Linked DNA regions of Homo sapiens. The protein of the gene in region 1 interacts with the protein of each later gene in a biochemical or structural test. Each region holds a gene or a part of one and is shown in the gene's direction. Other genes may lie near its edges.

Region 1 (3,500 bases):
CAAATGTTCATGAGGTGAAGGGATAAACACAATGTTGTATCTCCATACAGTGGAATACTGTTTGCCAATAAGAATAAGCGAAGTACTAATACATGCTGCACAAGAGTCAAACTTGAAAACATTATGCCAGTTACAAAAAAATACTTTATATGATTCCATTTATAGGAAATGTCCAGAATCAGCAAGTAGATTAGTGGTTGCTAAGGGTTAGAAGGGGTAGGAGAGAGATGGGAAGTGAATGCTGATGAATATGTTGTTTCTTTTTGGAGCAATGAAAATGTTGTCATTTAAATAGTGGTGGTAGTTGCCGTGTGTGGTGGCTCACGCCTGTAATCCCAGTACTTTGGGAGGTCGAGACAGGTGGATCACAAGGTCAGGAGTTCGAGACCACTGGCCAATATGGTAAAACCCCGTCTCTACTAAAAATACAAAAAAAATTAGCCAGGCGTGGTGGCATACGCCTGTAATCCCAGCTGCTTGGGAGGCTGAGGCAGGAGAATTGCTTGAACCTGGGAGGCGGAGGTTGCAGTGAGCCAAGATTGTGCCACTGCACTCCAGCCTGGGTGACAGAGCGAGACTCTGTCTCAAAAAATAAATACATAAAAAATTTAAAAAATAAATAGTAATGATAGTCGCACATCTAAAATCCATTGAATTGTATACCTAAAGGGGTCAATTGTATGATACATGAATTACTAGCCTACTGTTGATCAGAATCCTTAATGATCACATGACCAATTAACATGTATTTTGTATGTGTGTTATATAGCATATTTTTACAACAAAGTAAGCTAGAGAAAAGAATGTTAAGACAATCATAAAGAAGAGAAAATATACTTACTATTCATTAAGTGGATAGATCATATGAAGTAGATGATCATAAAGGTCTTCATCCTCATTATCTTCGCGTTGAGTAGGCTGAGGGGTTGGTCTTGCTGTCTCAGGAGTGGCAGAGGTGGAAGACAATCTGTGTATAAGGGAACCCATGCAGTTCAAACCTGTGTTGTTCAAGGTTCAACTGTATGTAGATGCATTTGCTTCCACGAGCATAAATAATCTCTGAAATTATACACACTGGTTGCTTATGGAAAGGAGAGCTGGATTCCAATGTGGGTAGGCATGGGAGGGAGATTTTTACTAAATATCCTTTTGTGTTTATCAAACTTTGTACCCTGGCATTGTATTACATGTTTTTCAAATAAATAAAAGTTATATAATGAGATATTAATAGCTTATCTTCTCTCTTGATTTTACTATATCCAGGTCCTTCAAGGGTTAGATTACTTACACAGTAAGTGCAAGATCATTCATACTGACATAAAGCCGGAAAATATCTTGATGTGTGTGGATGATGCATATGTGAGAAGAATGGCAGCTGAGGCCACTGAGTGGCAGAAAGCAGGTGCTCCTCCTCCTTCAGGGTCTGCAGGTGAGGGAGCTGAGCCAGCTTCATTTCAGTGTGGGGGCATTGGGAGCTTGCAAAGTTGCAGTTGTTGAAGGTATCTGAATCAAACGTTACACATAAGGAAGATTTTGGAAAAGTTTAATTGCTGGAAATAACTGCACCCTTGAAATGGAAAATGCCCCAGCTACATTATATTTTAATATTGGAAGTATTTACTTTTGTCCCCCTTTAAAAGGCCATTTAAATTTGTAGTTGCTGCTTCATCTATATTTGAACAGTTTTTTCTGTTGCCAGCTTCTCTGCAGAGGAGAACATAGTAACAGCTTTCCTGTAGCTGACCTTTAGTCATCAGAATATTTTTCTGGCTTCAATTTTGTGTACATAAATTCTTGTTGTCCATTTAGCATAGCTATGTCAACCTGAGTTGTATCAACAGATTTGGAGTTAGTTAGAAAAGGCCTGATGGTGGGGGAAGAAGATCAAGTGACCTGAGTATTGGGATATCTTTATTTCTGGGGCGGGGTCGGGGAGGTGGTGCAGTGAAGTGTGGACTGTGCTTCTCACTCTTCGACACCATGATCTGTGCCTTTGTGTGTTGTCAGGCAAGCATGGATACTAAAGGGCTGAGGCTCCTGGGACTGCCTGGGGCTCTCTTCACATCTCCTTTACTGCCATCAGGGTGTTGTTTAGATCATGGACCCAGCCTGTTAAGCTTTTGACCCTGGTGTAGGGGTTTAATCATGTGATTCCTAGACTATTTGCTGCATACCAACTGCAGTATTTGATTTAAATTATAGAAAGCTTGCAAAATAGATTCCAAATATCGATGTACATCTACATTGTTCATTTCATTATATTTTAAACAAATTTGGTTTAATGACTGTGATATGTATTCTTTTCCATTTTCTTAAGTGATCTGTTGGTGCTTGAGCTTGACTGTGTTTGAGATGTATTAGTATTTCATTTTAGATAAATAAGAGAAATGGCTCAGTATGAGTAACTTCTGCTGTGACTTCAGGAGTCACTCATTTGTTTCAGTGGCATAAACTTACTCTAGATCCTTGTGATTAAGAAGCTCTGATTAATAGTTTTTGAAGTTGGATAGCCATTAAAAGACAATAATTATTTCACTTTGCAATTCGAATGACCTACATGAAGGCATGTGTCTGTTTTCTGCTAAATACAGATTTTGTTTGATTTTATTTTAGTGAGTACGGCTCCACAGCAGAAACCTGTAAGTACTTACGCATATTACTTTATATGCACCATGTTAAAAGAGACCGTTTATTATTGAGTTGTTCAAATTATAAAAAAGTTGTGTATTTAAAGGGTAGACACATTTATAAAAGCTGTGTATCCTCAAATAGGTAAGACTTAATGTCTTGTTAATTTTTTTTTTTTTTTTTTTTGAAAACTGAGTTTCACTCTGTTGCTCAGGCTGGAGTGCAAGTGGTGCGATCTCGGCTCACTGCAACCTCCCCCTCCCTGGTTCAAACGATTCTTGTGCCTCAGCCTCCCGAGTAGCTGGGATTACAGGCACCTGCCACCGCACCCAACTAATTTTTGTATTTTTAGTAGAGAGGGGTTTCACCATGTTGGCCAGACTGGTCTCGAACTCTTAACCTCAAGTTATCTGCCTGCCTCGGCCTCCCAAATTTCTGGGATTACAGGTTTGAACCACCACGCCCAGCCTGTCTTGTTAAGTTTTAATGATCTGTGCAGAGTTGGGATAGTTAGAGCCTTTCAAAAATTGTCTTCTTTATGCATTTTCTGGACTATGGTGGCCAAGTTTAGTGAAATGTGAGGTGATGGAGTTGAAGTATTTTTATTTCAAAACCACTTTACATTATTTCTGATTGGCTGCTAAGTTACCTGTTTTTCTGAAGCTGTTGTTCTAATTTTTTCCATGCGGATGTTAAATAAGAAAGAGACTGATCTATTTTGTGGTCCTGTCAAAACACTATGTCCTTATTAGATACTGGGTGTGGTGACTCACGCCTGTAATCCCTGCACTTTGGGAGGCTGAGGCCACTAGATCACTTGAAGTCAGGAATTCAAGACCAGCCTGGCCAACATGGTGAAATCCTGTCTCTAC
Region 2 (3,500 bases), on another chromosome or scaffold:
GACTTGTTGGTTTGATTGAAGATTTGAGATGTCTGGGTGTCGAGAAGTCAACTAAAGGGATATGACCTTGAGCAAATTAATTAGCTTTTGTACCTGCATCTCCTCATCTGCCAAATAAGTGCCTATTTTTTTTGGAACAGGTGGAGATAGGGGCATGTTGGGGAGTTAAGATAGCAGTGTAATTTTTTAAAAGTCTATTCGTATATTTATATTCTTTCTTCAATGGGCATTTGAAGTGGCTTATAACACAGAACATATATGTGATATAAAAGGAAGTAAAAACTATAGAAAGAATGAAAAAAATATTGTTAACCTCGAGGGCTAAGATAGTTGATGAGGTTGATCACATGCAACTTGAAACTTTTAGCAGCCAGAGGATGAAAAGAATCATAGTTACAGTCTCCTTAGCAGGCATGGGAAATAATACATGTCAATTCCTCAAGGGGACGACTTTTCCTGACACAGAGTTCTAAAATAATTTTTCACGGGAATGTCTTAATAGCTGTAGTGTAATTCACATTGTAAGGCTTGTTCACGACTGTCACTGGTGATTTCAGATGGTATGGCTAGGAAAATTTGAGGTAAGAAAAGGAATCCTTGAGTTTTAAGAGTTAAGTGTACCACAACTGAAGAAGATCCTTGTTTAATGTTGGCAGTTATCGGTCAAACCAAGTAAGTAATCTAGTTCCCCATAACCACTGGTTATTTATCCCTCTTTTGCTGCTACTTTGTGTAACAGGAGTGGTAACTGTCCTTGGACCTTTGGAAATTGACACTGTGTCAAGTTGATTCTTTTTTCATAGTGTAAACCCAAATCTCCAACTTGTTGGAGAGCTCTTACAATAAGCATGTTTCTCCGGAAGGCCTTTCAGAACATTTGCTGTTCTCTGAACTTCTGAACATTAAAGGCACTCTCCAGAGTGATCCATTAAACATTTTGACCTAGGATCTGTGGAGTCAGACCCATCAGCAAAATGTGGGGAAGGAGAAGAGCACAGAAGAAACTACTTTTGTTTATAGGATATTCTTTATTTGAATGAAGCTATGTGCCACTAATTCATCAAAAGGGTCAGCTGAGACTTAGGAAGCACACCAAGTAGAGCCCCAATGGGTACAGCTTGGGTGTTAACCCGATAGGTAAAATCCAGGTTTCTCCTTTTGTCATCAGAGTTATCTTACGGTTAATTTTTGGTGCAGTTGTATAGAATTTACGCCAGGACTTGTCAGAATCACTGAAAGGAGATTTCATAGGTTGGCATTTCCTATCTTCACATCATTAGTATCTCTTGATTCTCCTTAGAGTGGCTGCTGTTGTAGTAGCAGTCTTTAAAACAGGAGTTGGGGTGTAAGAAGATCCTCTTTTTAAGATTTCTCCGCAGGTATTGATTACATCTCTTTTTCTTGTTTGGTTTAGTTAGTTACACTCTAGTTTCCAAATTACTTTGTTCCAAGTTTCTTTAGACATTTAGCTTGTAACAGAAATCTGTTAGAAGATTTCTAGATCAGTAGTTGTCTAGATCTTTTGCTGCCAAGGTTACAAATGTATACCTTTTCTTTTATCAGGAGTGTGTCATTTGGATCCAGAGTGTTTTACCCAATATAATATTCTTTTTTAAAATTTATTTTTATTTTTTATAGAGATGGGGAAATCCCTGTGTTGCCCAGGCTTGTCTTGAACTCCTGGGCTCAAGCGATCTTCCCACCTCAGCCTCCCGAAGTGCTGGGATTACAGGCAAGAGCCACCACGCCCACCCCAATATAGTATTCTTGGAAAGTTGTCTATAAAGGATATTTTGATACATGGAATCATGCAGGTCTTTAGTTGCCTGTGACTCCTAGCAAGTGTACTCTGCCACTCCGAGTAGTTAATGATCTGTAAATAAGCACTTTAATGCCCTCTTGGGGTTGTTTTAAAGGAACTGGCGAATAAAGGAGAATCATTTATACGTACCTGTTTCTCAAGTTTGGGAATGTGAGTATTGCATTTTTATAAAGAATGTCAACCCTGATTATACTGGATACATTTTATTATAATTTAGAACTGAATAGTAATTCAGAACACATGCTAATGAGGTGCGTCAGAAGCATTCCTGTCATGTGAAGGGCAACCTACGTGCATAGACCAGAATTTTTTCTAGCCTGAAATCTGAGAATCCCCAGTTGAAGACAAATTCTTACCACAAATTTTCCTTTTGATTATTGTCAATACTATCAGTGCCTATTGTGTAGTAAGCAGTTAATAAAAATTCACACAGAATTGCAGTTGCCTTTCCTTTTCTGATTCCATATTTTCCTTTGACTCACTCAAGTAGTTCTTTTGTCCCACTGTTGCTTGGCTGTTACATAAGACGCCTTTAACTTCCCGTTTCTGTTCCTAAAACTGTGAGTAGTAGTACAACATAAGGTAAGCACTGATTTTTGGAGTCAGTTTTACCTTTAGTCTCTACCATCTAATAGTTGTGGGACATTCAACAAGTGACGTCCTTTTCTCATCTGTAAAATGGGGAACAATGATAGTGCTATCTATATACATGGTTGAGAGGGTTAGCATTTAGTAAATAGTAATTAGTGGGGTTTTTTTGTACCTAGAGTGACCATATATCCTGGTTTGCCTGGCGCAATTCTGGTTTATACCTGTTATCCTAGCATGCAGTCCAAGGAGTGCCTCCGTAGCTCTGAAAGTTACCCTGGTTTATGTGGCCACCCTATTTATAACTCTCTGGATGATGCAACATGATAGTGCAAATGAGAGCCTAATTTTGAAATGTTAAAGAGCCAAAACAAAGAAGTTTCTATTGGAATGTCTTTTCAATAAGAAAATTTTTTTCTGACAAAAATGTTATTTTATATAGAGCTTACAGCTACTGAACCCCAAAACATTTTGTTAACTACAGGGGTGGGGTGTGTAGACAGAGATCTTAGAGCTTTTGATGGAGTTGAGATGTCCTCTACCTTACCATTCCCCATTCATCCCCCGTAATACATAATGCACTCATAGAATGTGGGTATTTGTCAGACACTGGGCCAGTCTCAGTCCAGGAGTTTATTTCCTTAAACTTCAGGTGTTTGGGGTTTTCCCAAACTAGAATCCTTGAATTACATGAAATAATTGCAAAGACTTCTGAACTGTGACTTTATCATTTTAGGTATGTACTCCAGCACCCCCGCCCCCATCCCTGCAGGTACTGTTTTCTCATTGCTCTTAACAGCCTGCTTCTAATTATGTATAACTGATTTTCTCCTGTAGAAATGTGTGGCCTTTGCTGCATGCCACTCATAGAACTAGAGTGGAGCATCCATGCCTTTGTTGAGAGACTCAGACTGCTTTCATTTTTGTTTCTATCTCTGTTTAATTTTTCTAAAGGATTTAGCCTGGTGCCTTAATCTCAGAATGTAGATAATGATGGATACTGCTTATCAGTATACATTGGGGGGCTTAATCATTCACTACCCAAATGGAACACAAAGTAAAAAGTTTAATGAACTATTGGTAAAAGGTA
Region 3 (3,500 bases), on another chromosome or scaffold:
CCGTTTGAGCCCCAGCTCCAGCAGCCATGGGGGATCCCTCACCTTCCCACAGTTCAGTGGGAACAACGACCCCTCACTGCAGGACCATTCGGGTCAGTTGAACTGACTTGTGCATATTGCTCCCAGCAGGCATGGGCTCTGTGCCCTTTCCTGTGTTCTTGGAGACACTTGGGGCCTTGCCAGTACAGTGTGGCCAACGGGCCAGAATATCCGCTGGGAGCCCTTTGGAAATGCAGAATCCCAGGCTCCACCCAGCCCTGCCCCGTCAGAATCTGCATTGTAGGAAGATTTGTTCCTGGTGGCCGGTGTGCACATTCCCATGTGGGCCGTGCTGGCCCAGGGCTCCCTGTGGTGTGCCTCTGTGTAGATTTCACCTGGCTCTGGAAGGCCCTGAGAATAGCTCTGAAGATGATCTTAGGTGGCTTTTTTTTTTTTTTTGAGACAGAGTCTCGCTCTGTCGCCCAGGCTGGAGTGCAGTGGCGCCATCTGGGCTCACTGCAAGCTCCGCCTCCCGGGTTCGCGCTATTCTCCTGCCTCAGCCTCCCGAGTAGCTGGGACTACAGGCGCCCGCCACCACGCCCAGCTAATTTTTTTGTATTTTTTTAGTAGAGACAGGGTTTCACCATGTTAGCCAGGATGGTCTCGATCTCCTGACCTCGTGATCCGCCCGCCTCAGCCTCCCAAAATGCTGGGATTACAGTCGTGAGCCACCGTGCCCGGCCTAGGTGGCTTTTAACCCAGGGAACTGACAGTCCTCTGAAGCCGCCCAGGTATTGGGAGAGGGAGAGGTGGCTGTGGTCTGAGCTCAGCAGGAGCCATCAGATCAGTTTCTGGTTGGGCCCCCACATTTCACACCTGGGCATCTAGGGAAGAGACAGGGAGGGCTCACCCCTCTGGCTTAGTGGACATCGTTTCACCCCCAGCCGGGACAGTGCTCAGCAAGGCCGTGGCTGAGAGGCACCCATGAGAAGGTGAGAGGCCCCCACTGCCCCTGCTTATAAAGCATCTGGGGAGGGCACATTGCCAGGCAGCAGGAGGGAGGCCAGCACTCGTTTGACTGGGCCAGCGTCCCTTTCCTGGGCCCCTGTGCTGTGCTGGGGTGAGGCGGGAAGGGAGAGGATACAGCCCCCACCCTCCCTCCTAGAGCTCACTCCTGGGCAGACGAGCCAGGCAGCACAGATGTGCCATGAACAGGGATGTCCAGGGTGCAGTGCATGGGCCTACAGAGGAAGAACCAGCCTTCTCTGGCGGCCCGGGGACCCATTAGGGAAAAAGGAATAGGAAGCGCCCAGCACACACTGACCCTGGGAGGCAGGGGCTGGCTCCTGTGGCAGAAGGGAACATCTGTGCCAGACATCTCACCTACATTGCCTTGGTGAGTTCATTCACAGGCCTCCATTACACAGGAGAGAAATATCAAGGTTTCTCTAGAAAGGTTTATTTCATGGGCCAAGGCTTGTGTTTCCAAAGCCAGGAAGGGCTGAAGCCAGAATTGGCCCTGGCTGCTTGCCACAGAGTCTGGCCGGGGGACCCTGGACCTCAGCAGGGTCATGATGAGGTCAGCTTTGGAGGAGCAGGGCCAGTGTGTCCTGCTTTCTGCTCCTGGAATGAGCCTCACTCCCTCCCTGCTCAAGGCAGCCCTTCACCCAGCCGCCGGGACAGGTGCCCTGTGCCACCTGCCATCCCTGTGATTCTCCATCTCAGTGAGTGCTCCCTGGGGCCTGGGAGCGCATCTGGCTGGTGACTCCTGTGTCCCAGGTCTAGCTTGGACCAGGAGCTTTGTAGCCCACCATGGGCCAAGTAAACGGCTGGGAGTGGGGATAGGGAAGGCTCTGAGGGTTGTGAGGGTTAGGGGGTCCCTCCATGAACCAGGATCTTCCAGGCAGCAGCCCCAGCCTCTGAATGCTCCTTAACTGTGGCCGCCATGCAGTGGTTGCCACATCCAAGAAGAACGCGTGCGTGTCGCTGGTCTTTTCTTTCCTCTATAAGGTGGTGCAGGTGAGTCTCGCTCGGAGGGGCCGTGGGCTTGGGTGGAGGTTGTCTTGGCTCTGCTTGTGGACCTCCCCATACCTGGCCACCCTACAGAGAGCTGTGGCATCCCCAGGGAGCACTGGGGCTGGAAGCCCAGGAAGTGGGAAAGGGGAGTCCCAACTCCCCACGCCTGTGGAATTCTATAGCTCACGTTGCTCCCCTACCGTGGGGAAGAAAGGAAAGTGAACAGGAAAAGGTAGGGCTCAGAGCAGGGGTGCCCTGACCCTGGAAGGGACAAGCAGGGGTCAGCGAGCTTTGGAAGGATGTGGGGTGACCAGCTGGATGGGGCTGGAATAACCAGCAGAGCTGCAGAGCTGAGCCCACCTCAGAATCTCCCAGGGGGCTCTCAAGGCACAGATGCCTGACGCCCACCTTGGAGAGAGCTGACACGCCAGGCCCAGGCTGCCAGTGAGACACAGATAGCAGCCAGGGTGAAGGCGCCAGGACAGGTGTATGTGTGGTGCAGCTAGGGAGGCCAGCGTGCGTGTGGCAGAGTATGAGGCTGAGGTCAGCTGGGAAGAGGGCGGATTATACAGGAGTGTGGATTTCATTCCACTTCTGATGAAAGGTAGTGGAGGGCTTTAAGCAGGAGACTGACAAGACGTGGTTTGATCTAAAGCAGCCTCTCTGGCTGCTGAGCAGAAGGAGGACTTGAGGCCAGTGAGGAGGCTGCTGCTGGCTTCCCGGAGAGGATGGGCCTGGCCGAGGTGGGCTGTGGGGCTCACGAAAGTGGGGAACAGGACCCAGGAGGCCTGTGCTGGGCCTGGGAAAGCTTTCATCCCTCACTGATGCTGCCTGTGCAGAATGTTGGGGAACAGGGGCAAGCCTGGGCGGTGAGGGCTTGGGGAAGGAGCCGAGGGTCACCTGGGAAGGCCCCACGTGCAGGCCAAGGGCTGCCTTCACTGGACCGGTGATGCTGTCACAGGCAGGGCTGGGCCTGGCTGTGCTGCCTGTGGTTTCCAAGCAGAGGCCGGGTGATCACAGTCCTGAAGCGCGCAGGGGTCAGCAGATCAGAGAATGGGGGATGCGGGAAGGGGAAGGTCCTCACCCAAGGGTTGGGCTGTGCCTTTCTGTTTTAGTGACGCTCCTTCCTTCAGCATTTGTGCCTGCAAAAGTGCTTCTAACAGCCCCTCTTCTTTGGCGTCCCTTCCTTAACCTTCTGAGCTTTCCATTGAAATGGGGAAGATGCATCAAGCTTTCCACTGAAATGGGGAAGATGGCAGCTCATCAGGTCCTTGCCTGAGTCACTCCAGACTCAGAAAGGGATGACAGTTACAGTCGCTCAGGAGGGGCTGCCTGTCTGCGGGTGTCTGGGCAGGGAAGAGAATGGGAACGCAGAGCTTCTGAAGGCCTCGGGACATCTGCAGTGGCTCCAGCCTGGCCCCACCCCACAGCCAGCCACTGCTGTCCTGCCCCATAACCTGGGTCCAGGGCCCTGTAGCACACCACCGAGCCTGGGAAGTAGGCTG
Region 4 (3,500 bases), on another chromosome or scaffold:
AGGCCACACCACAAAAGCTGGTCCAGGTCCAAAGATAGCTTTCGCTTTGTTTCATTACCTCAGCTACCAAGTGAGGGAAACATATAAAGTCAAAGTTTGATGAGGCAAGTGGACTGACTTCCCCAATGTCCCCCTTGTTCCTCCTCAAGAAGGCATTTCTGAATTTTGGCAGTCTTGGCCACCCACTGGGCTTGCTGCATTTACCCATTTTGTTGGAATTGCCATTGAGAACCAGAAAGGCAAAGTGAATTGCTCAAGGATAGTAGCGTAGCACTAGAGCTTATTAGTTTTTTGGTACTCAGGTGTGGTATTCTTTTACCACATTTGTTTTCTTCAAACACGTCCTGTTTTTCTGTGTGATAGACTATGAGAAAATATGGTCTTAGGAACTTTTTGTTGTTAGAGATGCTCTTTAGTTTAGTTATACCACCTCAAAGGTCATACCAATAGGACTTCCATTTCTCTTTTACTAGGGACAGAAATGATCTTGTATCTCTTAGAGCTATTTGGACAAGGGGAACTGGCATCCTTTTCTCTCTCATCCAGAATGTATGTATCAGTTAATATTGCAAGCTGAAAAATCCTTTAAGCTTCTGTTAGATTCTGGCAGAATACAGTTCCGATATCAATTGTAGCTCCCAAACTGCTCTGCAGTGTTTTTTCTGGCACAATGAAGCCTTTGGCCATCACTGCTACTTTGAAAATCAAAGCCTTTTGGTCTCTAATGGAATGTTTATAAAAATACTCCATTTTGAAATTTACTCAAGAAAAGGAGGAAGTATGGTAAATGATATTAGAAATCCCTCCGGCTTGCCTTGGCATAGCTTCATTTAGTGTTGTATACTCCAAATATCTAGAATTAGTGTGAATACAAAAGTATTAAAACCCAAAGATAAATAAGCTCATGTCCTTCTTCTATGGAAGTATAGCATCAGATACTTATCCCTAATTGTTATTTCTCTATAATAAGGTAAATTGCCCTTTGCCAAATTTAATATAGTTATCTTGGATAAGCTGAAAATTTCCTGACACATGTCAAAAGTCTCATCTATTTGCAGTCTTACTAAGGTGAAGTTTTTTGGGGTGGAGCAGTATAGAATGTCAAGCCTGTAGCAAAAAAGGCTGTACTGTACATATGTCAGTCTCTGTTGCTTTCCTGGGTGTCAGTGAAATAAAGTAAACAGTCAAATGTAGTAAACAAAACATGTTTACTTTAGTAATACAGTGACTGTCATAATACTTAACATGTAAAAAGAAGGCCAAGGACCTTTAGCTTATCCTGTGGTGTCAACCCTGTCTCAATGTAAGGCACTAGTGTATCTTAAAGTAAGAGAATGACTTTTATTCAAGAAATACACAACAGGCAAGTGCCGTATACCAGGAATTGTTCTAGGAATCTGGCAGTGAATATAAGACAAACTACCTGCTCTCCTTGAGCTTCTATTCTAACGTGGGAGAAAGAAAGCAAATAAATTACATGAATTGATTAATTGATCAGTTGCATGGCTTTTAGTATACATTTCTGTCAGTCTGCCAACCAGCACAGGTCCCTTATTAGCATGGGAGAAGGGCCTGATCACTGAAAGTATTATAGATTTATAGAGTATTGAAAGGAAACTTAAGGAAATTGGGGGCAGTGGCCTTTTAGAAAACAGCCTAACTCCATCAGTGACTTCTGCTTGCTTGTGCCTCTCATATGTGATCTGCTACTGGCCTTTGTTACTTCTCTCTGAAATAACACAAAAATTATGTTTAGGGCTCTCATTGACTTCAACTCCAAACCATATGTTACTTCTTTTAAAAACATAATTTCTAAAAAAAAAAAATATATAGAGAGAGAGAGGCAAATACAGTATCTTAAGATGATACTATATTTGAAATTCCAAGCTAAAACCCTGGAACAAGAAGCTGGTAATATTTTGGGAAGCATTCTTTATTTTTGAGTAGTCTTTCTGTGTGTAGGCCTCTAAGTTCCCAAAGATATCCTTTGGTAGCAACTGACTTACTATGTAGTAGCATTATTTGATTTTAAGTCATTTGATTTTTTTATCTGAGGAGATACCTTTATTATAAAAAATTTTACTTGAAGAAATTTATCTTGATAAGCAAATGTAAGGCTGTCACTTTTGCTTATTGGCATTAAATAAACATACTACAGTTTTTCCATTTAAAAATGTGGGTTATTTGATTATGCCAGAGTAGTTACAATCAAGAACTAACAAACATTTGTACTTAATGTACTGAAAGGTCTTTGCCCACTTTTTAAAAGTTCTCTTGCAGAACTACAACTCTGTGAAGTACTACATTTATAAGCCAAAACATTTTTAACAAAGAAGAAAAATTCCCATCATTCATTTAACCAAATACAGTAGTAAACTTTGTCTTTAAAATGGGGAGGCTTGTTATTATAGTTGCTTTTGTTTTTGTTATACCTGTGGTTTTTGCTGTGTTTTTTTAGAAGTTGAAGGGAGCGTGCTCTCTCTGGGGGTTCAGTTAATTGCAGTGAGTAAATCAATATTCAGCAATCATGTCTTTTAAAGCCCTTTCTAATCTTGAGATTTTATGATTCTATATTTACCTTTGCCTCTGCTTTTTCCTTCAGTGATAAGAGTGCAGGGATTATGTAGGGGTTGAGATGGGGAATGAATTGGGCTAGTGGTTTAGGAGGTGATGGGCATTAAGTGGGAGTTGAAAACATGTTGTGGTTGATTCTAAGAGGGGCAATTGCTATTGGCTTCTGCTTTTTTTGTAGTTTTTTTTTTCAATACTAAATACATGTTCTTAATTGTAATTATTTTTCAAATTAGGGGAAAAAAGGAAGAAAAAGATAAACCCAAAGATAAAAATAATTTTTGAAAGTCACCTTCTCATAGCTTCCTCCAAACAGACAATCCCTTAATTCTTAGAAATGGGCCAATATATAAATCATCAAAAAGATGATTAAGAATAGGCTTTGAAAAGAATTTTGGAGGAGATAAGGTATTTTTCACGGGATTATGTTATTTATTGGCTCATAAGTTTCCTGAAAGATAGAATTTATTTTTGGTGATAAGATTGAATTTAAGGTAGATATTTTATGTCCCTTGGAGCTAGACAGTCTTTTTTATCTTTTGTGTTCCCAGCCCCAAATATACCACCTAACCTATACTAGGTACTCAAAAATTGTTTCCTGAGCTTAACACAGTACTCATTCTTGGTGGAAATAACAGCAAGATAATCCCGGTGTAAAAGGAGTAGACTTTTTGTGAATAAGGGAATTCTTTTTCAGTCACTCTCCAAAATGTTCTCTTTCAGAAAGTGTACAAAAAAATTTTTTTTTTTGCCTAGTATATTGGAATCACAAGCACTGACTTCATATTTCAAAGTTGAAAGAAATGAGATAGATGTCCCACACAGCTGTAAAATGCCAAAAATAAGTAGTGCTGACATAAATTAAAGGCCAGTGCTCTGAAAAGCCACAGAAAAGCTTCAGATCAAGGGTGGCTATAATTGAAAGGGCC
Region 5 (3,500 bases), on another chromosome or scaffold:
TCTCAGCTCACTGCAACCTCCTCCTCTCAGGTTCAAGCAATTCTCCTGCCCACCACCATGCCTGGCTAATTTTTGGGCAGGTACCCACCACCATGCTTGGTTAACTTTTGTATTTTTAGTAGAGACTGGGTTTTGCCATGTTGGCCAGGCTGGTCTCTAACTCCTGACCTCAAGTGATCTACCCACCTTGGCCTCCCAAAGTGCTGGGATTATAGGCGTGAGCCACTGTGCCTGGCCTTAATTCTTCCTCCAGTGTGGCTGAGGGAAGCCAAAAGATTAGACATCTCTGGTATAAGATTACAGTTTAGTTTCACTCTTTTGCATGTGGATATCAAGTTTTTTCAACACCACTTTTTTTTTTTTGTTTGAGACAAAGTTTCGTTCTCCTTGCCCAGGCTGGAGAGTAATGACACAGTCTCTGTTCACTGCAACCTCTGCCTCCCGGGCTCAAGCGATTTTCCTGCCTCAGCCTCCTGAGTAGCTGGGATTACAAGTGTGTGCCACCATGCCCAGCTAATTTTTTGTATTTTTAGTAGAGATGGGGTTTCTCCATGTTGGCCAGGCTGGTCTCGAACTCCTGACCTCAGGTGATCTGCTCTCCTCAGCCTCCCAAAGTGCTGGGATTATAGATGTGAGCCACTGCACCCAGCCCTCTTTCTTCCTTTTTTTTTTTGAGACGGAGTCTCACTGTGTTGCCCAGGCTGGAGTGCAGTGGCGCATTTGTGGCTATAAAGTTCCCTGTGAGTACTGTTTTGGTGTGCTGTGTTTTCATTTTCATTTGTCTCAAGATATTTTCTAATTTCCTTTTTTATTTCTCCTTTGATCCATTGGTTGTTCAAGAGTATGTTAATTTTCAAATATTTGTGAATTTTTTAGTTTTCCTTCTATTATTAATTTCTAGTTTTATTCCATTGTGGTTAGAAAAAATGTTTGTGTGATTTCAATCTTCTCACATTTGTTAAGATTTGTTTTGTAACCTAACGTGATCTGCTTTGGCAAATGTTCTGTGTGTGCTTGAGAAGAATATGTGTTCTGCTGCTGTTAGGTGGAATGTTCTGTATATGTATGGCAGTTTAGTTGAGTTTATAGTGTTCAAGTCTATTGTTTCTTTAGTGGTCTTCTGTCTGGATGTTCTGTGTATTGTTGAAAGTATGGTGTTGAAATCTCCAATTATTAGTGGGTGGCTATCTATTTCTCTCTTCAGTTCTGTTAATGTTTGCTTCATATATTTGGGTGCTCTGATGTTGGATATATAAATATATATATATTTTCAGATGGAGTTTCACTCTGTCACCCAGGCTGGAGTGCAATGGCACTATCTCAGCTCACTGCAACCTCTGCCTCCCAGGTTCAAGAGATTCTCCTGACTCAGCTACCTGAGTAGCTGGGATTACAGGTGCCCACCACCATGCTTGGCTAATTTTTGTATTTTTTTGTAGAGACAGGGTTTTGCTATGTTGGCCAGACTGCTCTCGAACTGCTGACCTCAGGTGACCTGCTTGCCTCGGCCTCCCAAAGTGCTGGGATTACAGTTGTGACCCACCATTCCCAGCTGGGTTAATATATATTTATAATTGTTGCGTCTTCCTAGTGAATTGACTCTTTTATCATTATATTATGTCCTTCTTTGTCTCCTATGATAGTTTTTGACTTAAAGTTTATTTTGCTTAAGCATGGCTACTCCTGCTCTCTCTTGGATAACATTTGCATGGAATATGTTTTTTCATCCTTTCACTTTCAGCATATGTCTGTCTTTAAATCTAAAGTGAGTACCTTATAGACAGCATACAGTTGGATCATGTTTTTTTTTTAATCCACTTAGCCACCAACAGAATTATAATTTTTAAGCATTTATCAGAAGTAAAGACATTTAGTAATGATTCCCCCCTTCATTTTATATACCTATTTTCTCTTTATTTTATTTTTTTAACAGAGTCAACCTATTTGATTTCTTGACAAGACCACAATCTGATCCCAAAGATGTGCTCCACAAATCCAGGCAAATGGGTCACCTTTGATGATGATCCTGCTGTTCAATCTTCTCAAAAGTCAAAGAATTTTCCTCTGGAGAATCAAGGTGTCTGTAGACCAAATGGACTGAAGCTGAACCTTCCTGGCCTCAGGGAATTTCCCAGTGGATCTTCCTCCACCAGCAGCACTCCTCTCTCCTCCCCCATTGTAGATTTTTATTTCAGTCCAGGACCTCCAAGTAACTCTCCTCTTTCTACACCTACCAAAGACTTCCCAGGTTTTCCTGGCATCCCCAAAGCAGGGACTCATGTGCTTTATCCTATTCCAGAATCATCTTCAGACAGCCCACTCGCAATATCAGGAGGAGAATCTTCCTTACTGCCTACCAGACCAACATGTTTATCCCATGCCTTGTTACCCAGTGACCACTCATGTACACATCCAACTCCCAAAGTAGGTCTTCCAGATGAAGTTAATCCTCAACAGGCTGAAAGCCTAGGATTCCAAAGTGATGATCTCCCCCAGTTTCAGTATTTTCGAGAGGACTGTGCTTTTTCAAGTCCATTTTGGAAAGATGAAGGCAGTGATTCCCATTTCACCCTTGACCCACCAGGAAGCAAAAAGATGTTCTCATCAAGAAACAAGGAGATGCCTATTGACCAAAAAAGCCTAAATAAGTGTTCACTCAACTATATCTGTGAGAAGCTTGAACATCTCCAGTCAGCTGAGAACCAAGACTCACTTAGAAGTTTGTCTATGCACTGTCTATGTGCTGAAGAAAATGCCTCTTCCTTTGTCCCCCACACACTCTTCAGGAGTCAGCCAAAATCCGGATGGTCTTTCATGCTGAGAATTCCTGAGAAGAAGAATATGATGTCTTCCCGGCAATGGGGACCAATTTTTCTGAAAGTTTTGCCTGGAGGAATTTTGCAGATGTATTATGAACAGGGATTAGAAAAACCATTTAAAGAGATACAGCTTGATCCATATTGTAGGCTTTCTGAACCCAAGGTTGAGAACTTCAGTGTAGCAGGAAAAATCCACACTGTGAAGATTGAACATGTGTCTTACACAGAAAAAAGGAAATACCATTCTAAGACAGAAGTAGTTCATGAACCTGACATAGAGCAGATGCTGAAGTTGGGGTCCACATCGTACCATGACTTCCTTGACTTTCTGACTACTGTGGAGGAGGAGCTGATGAAGTTGCCAGCTGTTTCAAAACCAAAAAAGAACTACGAGGAGCAAGAAATTTCCTTGGAAATTGTGGACAACTTTTGGGGTAAAGTCACAAAAGAAGGAAAATTTGTTGAAAGTGCTGTGATAACTCAAATTTATTGCCTCTGCTTTGTGAATGGGAACCTGGAATGCTTTTTAACCTTGAATGACCTTGAGTTGCCGAAGCGAGATGAATCCTATTATGAGAAGGACTCAGAAAAAAAGGGGATTGATATTCTTGACTACCATTTTCATAAGTGTGTGAATGTACAAGAATTTGAGCAATCAAGAATCATTAAGTTTGTACCTCT
Region 6 (2,401 bases), on another chromosome or scaffold:
AATGTTCTTTGTAACAACCAATTTTTTTCTATCTTTCTTCTTTAATTATTTTAATGTAGTTGATTTTTCTGGAACTCAGTTAAAATGAATGGAAAGAAAACTTCAGGATATCATTTAATGACTATTAAGTATTATTGGTAAAAACGTGAAGATAAGACTTTTAGATCACAGCTTCAAATTTTATGGAAAATTAAGCAAGCAATACCTAGCCAATAGTTCTGCTTAACTTTTTGGTTAAGTATTTTGTTGGGATTCCTATAAATAATTTTTCACACAAAGTTTTAAATTTCTGGTGTACTTTGACTCTCAACTGAGAGTGGATAGAGTTTTTCTTTTGAGGATTACATCTTAAAATGTCCATCGCCTGGCTGGTTATAAGCATTTGTCACCTTTTGAAGGTAAAATATACTCTGGCCCTTCTTGACTCAGTTACAGGTCATTTTAGGTCCAGTAATAAGAGTCAGGTGTTTGGTTATTGCTTTCAGAGTCAGACATTGTTTAGGTTTATTTAAAAACTATTAGCAGGTTTTCACTGACAATGCTTTTTTAAAAATAAAAAATGTAAATCCACTTTTTTAAGGCAGATTGTTCATTATGCATATACAGCTTGAACTATAGTTTGGGTCCATATAGGAACCAATCACCAAAAACTCTGGTAACAGAATTAGGAAATCCTCTTGAGAAGAGGGCCTTAATGACCTTTTATGTGAAAAAAATTTTGGAGAGAATTTCTGGACATTTTTTTTTCTGTCTCTCTCACAGGGTTTGGTTTTCAGATAGGAGTTAGGTATGAGAACAAGAAGAGAGAAAACTTGGCGCTGACCCTGTTATAGTGGTTATAGTGGTGTCCCTAAAGGGAGGAAATGATTTCAGGTAACCACAGTGAAATGTTAAGCTGAATGAAGAGTTTTATATGTATGGTTTAAACAGAGTTGAAAAGTGAGATTCCTGAAGTGTTCTTTGGCTGTTTAACAATTATTTGTATGAGTGTTTTATTAAAATAACGGCTGCTGTCTTTGGTAACATAGATGAGGGTGGATTTTTAAATGGCTTTGTATCGACCCCTTTCTACAATAATGGAGTAGTCTATGTTGCTCCATATAAATTACAGAATGAAAATAGATGGGGCAAAAGTTTGACTAAACTTTACCTTTTTATAGTTTCACTTTTTAAGTTATATTTAGAATATATTGATAGATTATAAATTGATTGTGAAACTTTTTTCTGAATTTTTTCAACATGTTTTACTCAGTTACATGAGTTAAAGGATATTTTCAGTCCTGTTATCTTCAATTGCAGTCTTTAAAAAAACCCACCCTATTGTTCTACTTGTTATATGTCTATTCATACAGTAAATTCATTTCAAGGTTTATGCCAGTGGGTATTATTGGTGCTTTTTGAAGTTGAGGTGAACCATCCAGGAAGGTCTTGTTAATGTTATGTTCATCTATAATGGCATAGGGGAAATATATATATTTTTAATATTGTAAACATTTGTACTGAATAACCTTTTTTTCCCCCCCTCCGCAAGCAAAACTGGTTGAACAGCGGATGAAGATATGGAATTCAAAGCTCTAATGGACCTTTTTGAAGAGAAGTTGTGGCTTATGTGGAGTTTACATGGGCCTCTGATGGAAGAAAGCTAATCTGTTTAGTATTTGTGCATTTTACTAAAATGGCAGCTTAAAGTTGTGTATCTGCTATTGTGATGCCAATGCCGGTGTTTTAAGTGGAAAAAAAATGACCTCTTTGATTTGTGCTGTGTACACAAGATTTCTGGAAAAGTAAAGAAAAACCCTTTTTATGGCTCACACAGCTTAAGAGTAGCTGTCTCTCAAACGTGCGCTCACAGTTGAGCTGCTTTTGTTTTATTCTAAATAAATTGTTTCTTTTGAGGAAAATGTTTTTCTGCCTGGAAGTGAATTGACGGCAAACCTTTGACCCCTTTGTTTGCAGCCGAGGGGGTGCTTGCTGCTGCTCAGATCTTGTATGTCTTGAGCAAGAAGCAGGGAGACCATCAATTTCATTTTGACTATCACGGTGTGTCAATTCTGAAGGATCACTAGTGTTACTGTTGACCCCCTTTGTTTGCAGTGAAGGGGATCATTTGCTTCTCGGTTCTCAACGTGATGAGGAAATGGTGCTGTTTGCTGGCACGCAAGAAGCCGGGGCAGGCACCCTAAGCCTCACCACAGTGCCTGAGTCGGGGGCTTTTGCTGGTTTGAAGAGCTGGAGTTGCTGAAATTTAAGTTTTGATTTATTTTGTTCACCCATCACGTTTGGCCTTAGTTTCATTTTTAATTTGAAGAAAAGTTTGAAATTGCTTTATCTTGCACTTAACATTTGCACCAAATTGCCAAAAGAAGGAGAAATGCTCCGTTTGCTTTTTAAATGTTAATGA
Region 7 (3,500 bases), on another chromosome or scaffold:
AGGGATTGAGAGGGTCAGCTGTGGGAAATTGGTGTCAGCTGAGTAATTGAAGCGGTTGTGATATAGAGGAAGGGGGGTGCTAAAAATGGGCTGTGTGAAGTGCCAGGCTGCAGAACATCCTGGGAAGCTTTTAAATATCTTTGGTAATAGGGGAGTCTGGGTAAGAAGTGAGAAACTGGGATGCTAATGAGGAAAGAAGAAAAAGGAGCCCTGGGTGTTTGGGTTTCGGAAGGAGAGAGGGAACAGAAAAATAAAAAGACTAGGGTGGCTAGATAGCTGGATCTGTTAGTATGCATCAGTAGTCCAAGCTACTCAGCAGGCTGAAGCAGAAGGATCACTTGAGCCCAAGTTCAAGACCAGCCTGGGCAACATAGCAAGACGTGGTCTCAAAGAAGACCAGGATAATGAGTTTGTCACCACCCAGAGAGATCAACCCCAAAGCCTGGGTCGTTGCATCCTGCAAGTAGCGACAGTTGATTTGTTGTAAAAGAGATGATAGAAAGCATAGTAACTGATTCCCCTGGCCCTGCTGGGTCTTGCCAATTGACAGGATCGTGGGGGTCCTCCCTGCAAGCCCCCAGCACCTGAAGATGAGGATGAGGCATGGCGGCAGCGACGAAAGCAGTCGTCATCTGAGATTTCCCTGGCAGTGGAGCGGGCCCGGCGACGGCGAGAAGAAGAGGAGCGGCGCATGCAAGAAGAGCGCCGGGCAGCCTGTGCTGAGAAGCTCAAGCGACTCGATGAAAAGTTTGGGGCACCTGACAAGCGGCTCAAAGCAGAGCCTGCTGCCCCACCTGCTGCCCCTTCTACCCCAGCTCCACCACCTGCAGTCCCTAAAGAACTCCCTGCACCTCCAGCTCCACCTCCAGCATCAGCCCCAACACCAGAGACAGAACCTGAAGAGCCAGCACAGGCCCCTCCTGCCCAATCTACTCCTACTCCAGGTGTGGCTGCGGCTCCCACTCTGGTGAGTGGTGGTGGCAGTACCAGTAGCACCAGCAGTGGCAGCTTCGAAGCCAGCCCAGGTATGGAGATGGGGATAGGTACTACCAGATGTCAGATCACTGCTTCAAGGTGCTTAAAGGTGCAGGGTGGTAAGGCTGGGGATAAATGAAGTAGAAGGCAGTTGTTTTGGTTTATTGGACTATCAGTGATAGTGTTCTATCATTTGTATATCTGAAGGAGGGAAGGTTTTGTCTGGAATCTTAGGTTGTAGTCTAATACCATTTCTTGGCAGAGTACTGTAGCTCACGCCTATAATCCCAACACTTAGGGAGGCTTGGGGTGGAGGATCGCTTGAGCCTAGGGAGTTTGAGACCAGCCTGGGCAACAAAGCAAGACCCTGTCGGCCAGGCATGGTGGCTCACACTTGTAATCCCAGCACTCTGGGAGGCCGAGGCGGGCAGAACATGAGGTCAGGAGTTCAAGATCAGCCTGGCCAACATAGTGAAACCCGTCTCTACTAAAAATACAAAAATTAGCCAAGTGTGGTGGCATGTGCTTGTAGTCCCAGCTGCTTGGGAGGCTGAGGTAGTAGAATCGCTTTAACCCGGGAGGCAGAGATTTCTGTGAGCCAAGACCATGCCATTGCACTCCAGCCTGGGTGACAGAGCAAGACTCTGTCTCAAAAAAAAATCCTGTCTCACAAGAAATACATAAATAAAAATGAAAACTATTTCCTATAGGCCAAGACTGAAGAAAGTACTGTTGTTCTAATGGTTTCATAGAAAGTTAATGCCACCACCATAGGCTCATGAGAGGCCATGAAGTGCTTTAATGGGTCTTAAATGGGAGGGGCTTCAATAGAATAGATGTTGAATAGAATATTTTAGTCTTAAGGGAGCTAGAGATGAGACGTGAGATTCCTGGGGTGTTCATGGAGTGTCTATTGTTGGACTAGATCACTCTGTTGTGTTTTTTCCGATGCAGTGGAACCACAACTGCCCTCAAAAGAGGGTCCTGAACCACCAGAAGAGGTTCCTCCTCCTACCACACCCCCAGTTCCAAAGGTGGAACCCAAGGGTGATGGGATTGGTCCCACCCGCCAGCCCCCTAGTCAGGGCTTGGGCTACCCCAAATATCAGAAGTCGTTGCCTCCTCGTTTCCAGCGGCAGCAGCAGGTGAAATCAAGTTGTTTACCCTCTAAGGGCTGCTTTTCTTCCTGGCTTCGGTCCCTAATTCTCTTCATAAGTTACCTTCTGGGTCCCTTTGCTTCTTTGTCCAGTTGTCTCCATTGTCACGCCAATTTCCCCTAGTCCAAGTTTTTTCTTTGCTGATTCCTTTGTCCATGTGTGCTTTGAGCCTCTCTCATCTTGTCTTTCCTCCTTTCCTAGGAGCAGCTCCTGAAGCAGCAGCAGCAGCACCAGTGGCAGCAGCATCAACAGGGCTCTGCCCCTCCTACCCCAGTGCCCCCATCACCACCACAGCCTGTGACCCTGGGGGCTGTGCCAGCTCCACAGGCTCCACCCCCGCCCCCCAAGGCCCTGTACCCAGGTGCTCTGGGCCGGCCCCCACCCATGCCCCCAATGAACTTTGATCCCCGATGGATGATGATTCCTCCTTATGTGGACCCCCGGCTCCTCCAGGGTCGTCCCCCTCTAGACTTCTACCCTCCTGGTGTGCATCCCTCTGGTAAGGGGGCATGGGAGGAGTGAGAAACAGGAAAGTCCCCTCAGTCTTAGGCATTGGATATTAGGGTCTTACTGTGACTCTGGTACGATAGGTTTTGCCCATCATAGTGATGAGGGAAGGGCATATGCTTGGCACTGCTGAGATAGCTCTGTTGCAAAAATGGGCTTAGTTAAGAAATAAGCAGTGGTTGGCCAGGCATTGTGGCTCACGCCTGTAATCCCAGCACTTAGGGAGGCCGAGGTGGGCAGATCAACTGAGTTCAGGAGTTCGAGACCACCATGGCTAACGTGGTAAAACCCCATTTCTACTAAAAATACAAAAAAGTAGCCGGCGTGGTGGCGCTCGCCTGTAGTCCCAGCTACTCGGGAGACTGAGGCAGGAGAAACGCTTGAACCCAGGAGGTGGAGGTTGTAGTGAGCCGAGATTGTGCCATCGCACTCCAGCTTAGGCAACGAGCGAAACTCCGTCTCAAAAATGAATGAATGAATAGCACAACTCCATCTCAAAAATGAATGAATGAATGAAAGAAGCAGTGGTCCTTCATTTGCCAGGATTTATTTGGGGTGGGTTGATTCTCTTGTAGGGAATCTGAGTGGATAACCTTGTTATATAAGAGCAGGCAAGGCCCGGACCTACTGGGAACAAGAGATGGAAGAGCTGACTTGACCGCGAGGGGAGATGCTTTTTGGGCTGGAGGGCTTGTGACATGAATAGGATTATTTTTCTTTTTCTTTGGTTTCTTCAGGCCTAGTTCCCCGAGAGCGTTCAGACAGTGGGGGCTCAAGCTCAGAGCCATTTGACCGTCATGCACCTGCTATGTTACGGGAACGGGGCACTCCACCGGTGGATCCAAAGTTGGCCTGGGTAGG

Evidence for each region.
Region 2: of the proteins of SRPK2 (region 1) and AHCYL1, one has a biochemical effect on the other in vitro, tested with the Homo sapiens proteins (one large-scale study listed by BioGRID and IntAct).
Region 3: of the proteins of SRPK2 (region 1) and AP1M1, one has a biochemical effect on the other in vitro, tested with the Homo sapiens proteins (one large-scale study listed by BioGRID).
Region 4: of the proteins of SRPK2 (region 1) and OBI1, one has a biochemical effect on the other in vitro, tested with the Homo sapiens proteins (one large-scale study listed by BioGRID).
Region 5: of the proteins of SRPK2 (region 1) and STON1, one has a biochemical effect on the other in vitro, tested with the Homo sapiens proteins (one large-scale study listed by BioGRID).
Region 6: of the proteins of SRPK2 (region 1) and RBM15, one has a biochemical effect on the other in vitro, tested with the Homo sapiens proteins (2 studies listed by BioGRID and IntAct).
Region 7: of the proteins of SRPK2 (region 1) and PRRC2A, one has a biochemical effect on the other in vitro, tested with the Homo sapiens proteins (one large-scale study listed by BioGRID).

What each region holds. Positions count from the first base shown.
Region 1 is NC_000007.14:105,144,422-105,147,921, reverse strand, and holds part of SRPK2 (SRSF protein kinase 2), read left to right. Parts: intron 1-1,263; coding exon 1,264-1,429; intron 1,430-2,613; coding exon 2,614-2,639; intron 2,640-3,500. UniProt on the Homo sapiens protein: Serine/arginine-rich protein-specific kinase which specifically phosphorylates its substrates at serine residues located in regions rich in arginine/serine dipeptides, known as RS domains and is involved in the phosphorylation of SR splicing factors and the regulation of splicing.
Region 2 is NC_000001.11:109,987,765-109,991,264, forward strand, and holds part of AHCYL1 (S-adenosylhomocysteine hydrolase-like protein 1), read left to right. Parts: intron 1-3,500. UniProt on the Homo sapiens protein: Multifaceted cellular regulator which coordinates several essential cellular functions including regulation of epithelial HCO3(-) and fluid secretion, mRNA processing and DNA replication.
Region 3 is NC_000019.10:16,204,411-16,207,910, forward strand, and holds part of AP1M1 (AP-1 complex subunit mu-1), read left to right. Parts: intron 1-1,930; coding exon 1,931-1,998; intron 1,999-3,500. UniProt on the Homo sapiens protein: Subunit of clathrin-associated adaptor protein complex 1 that plays a role in protein sorting in the trans-Golgi network (TGN) and endosomes.
Region 4 is NC_000013.11:78,617,656-78,621,155, reverse strand, and holds part of OBI1 (ORC ubiquitin ligase 1), read left to right. Parts: intron 1-3,500. UniProt on the Homo sapiens protein: E3 ubiquitin ligase essential for DNA replication origin activation during S phase.
Region 5 is NC_000002.12:48,578,654-48,582,153, forward strand, and holds part of STON1 (stonin-1), read left to right. Parts: intron 1-1,933; 5' UTR 1,934-1,980; coding exon 1,981-3,500. Other genes in the region: STON1-GTF2A1L protein, read left to right, coding at 1,981-3,500. UniProt on the Homo sapiens protein: May be involved in the endocytic machinery.
Region 6 is NC_000001.11:110,344,777-110,347,177, forward strand, and holds the end of RBM15 (RNA-binding protein 15), read left to right. Parts: intron 1-762; coding exon 763-833; 3' UTR 834-873; intron 874-1,531; coding exon of another isoform or gene 1,532-1,578; 3' UTR 1,579-1,901; downstream 1,902-2,401. UniProt on the Homo sapiens protein: RNA-binding protein that acts as a key regulator of N6-methyladenosine (m6A) methylation of RNAs, thereby regulating different processes, such as hematopoietic cell homeostasis, alternative splicing of mRNAs and X chromosome inactivation mediated by Xist RNA.
Region 7 is NC_000006.12:31,627,215-31,630,714, forward strand, and holds part of PRRC2A (protein PRRC2A), read left to right. Parts: intron 1-550; coding exon 551-1,025; intron 1,026-1,929; coding exon 1,930-2,120; intron 2,121-2,333; coding exon 2,334-2,631; intron 2,632-3,376; coding exon 3,377-3,500. UniProt on the Homo sapiens protein: May play a role in the regulation of pre-mRNA splicing.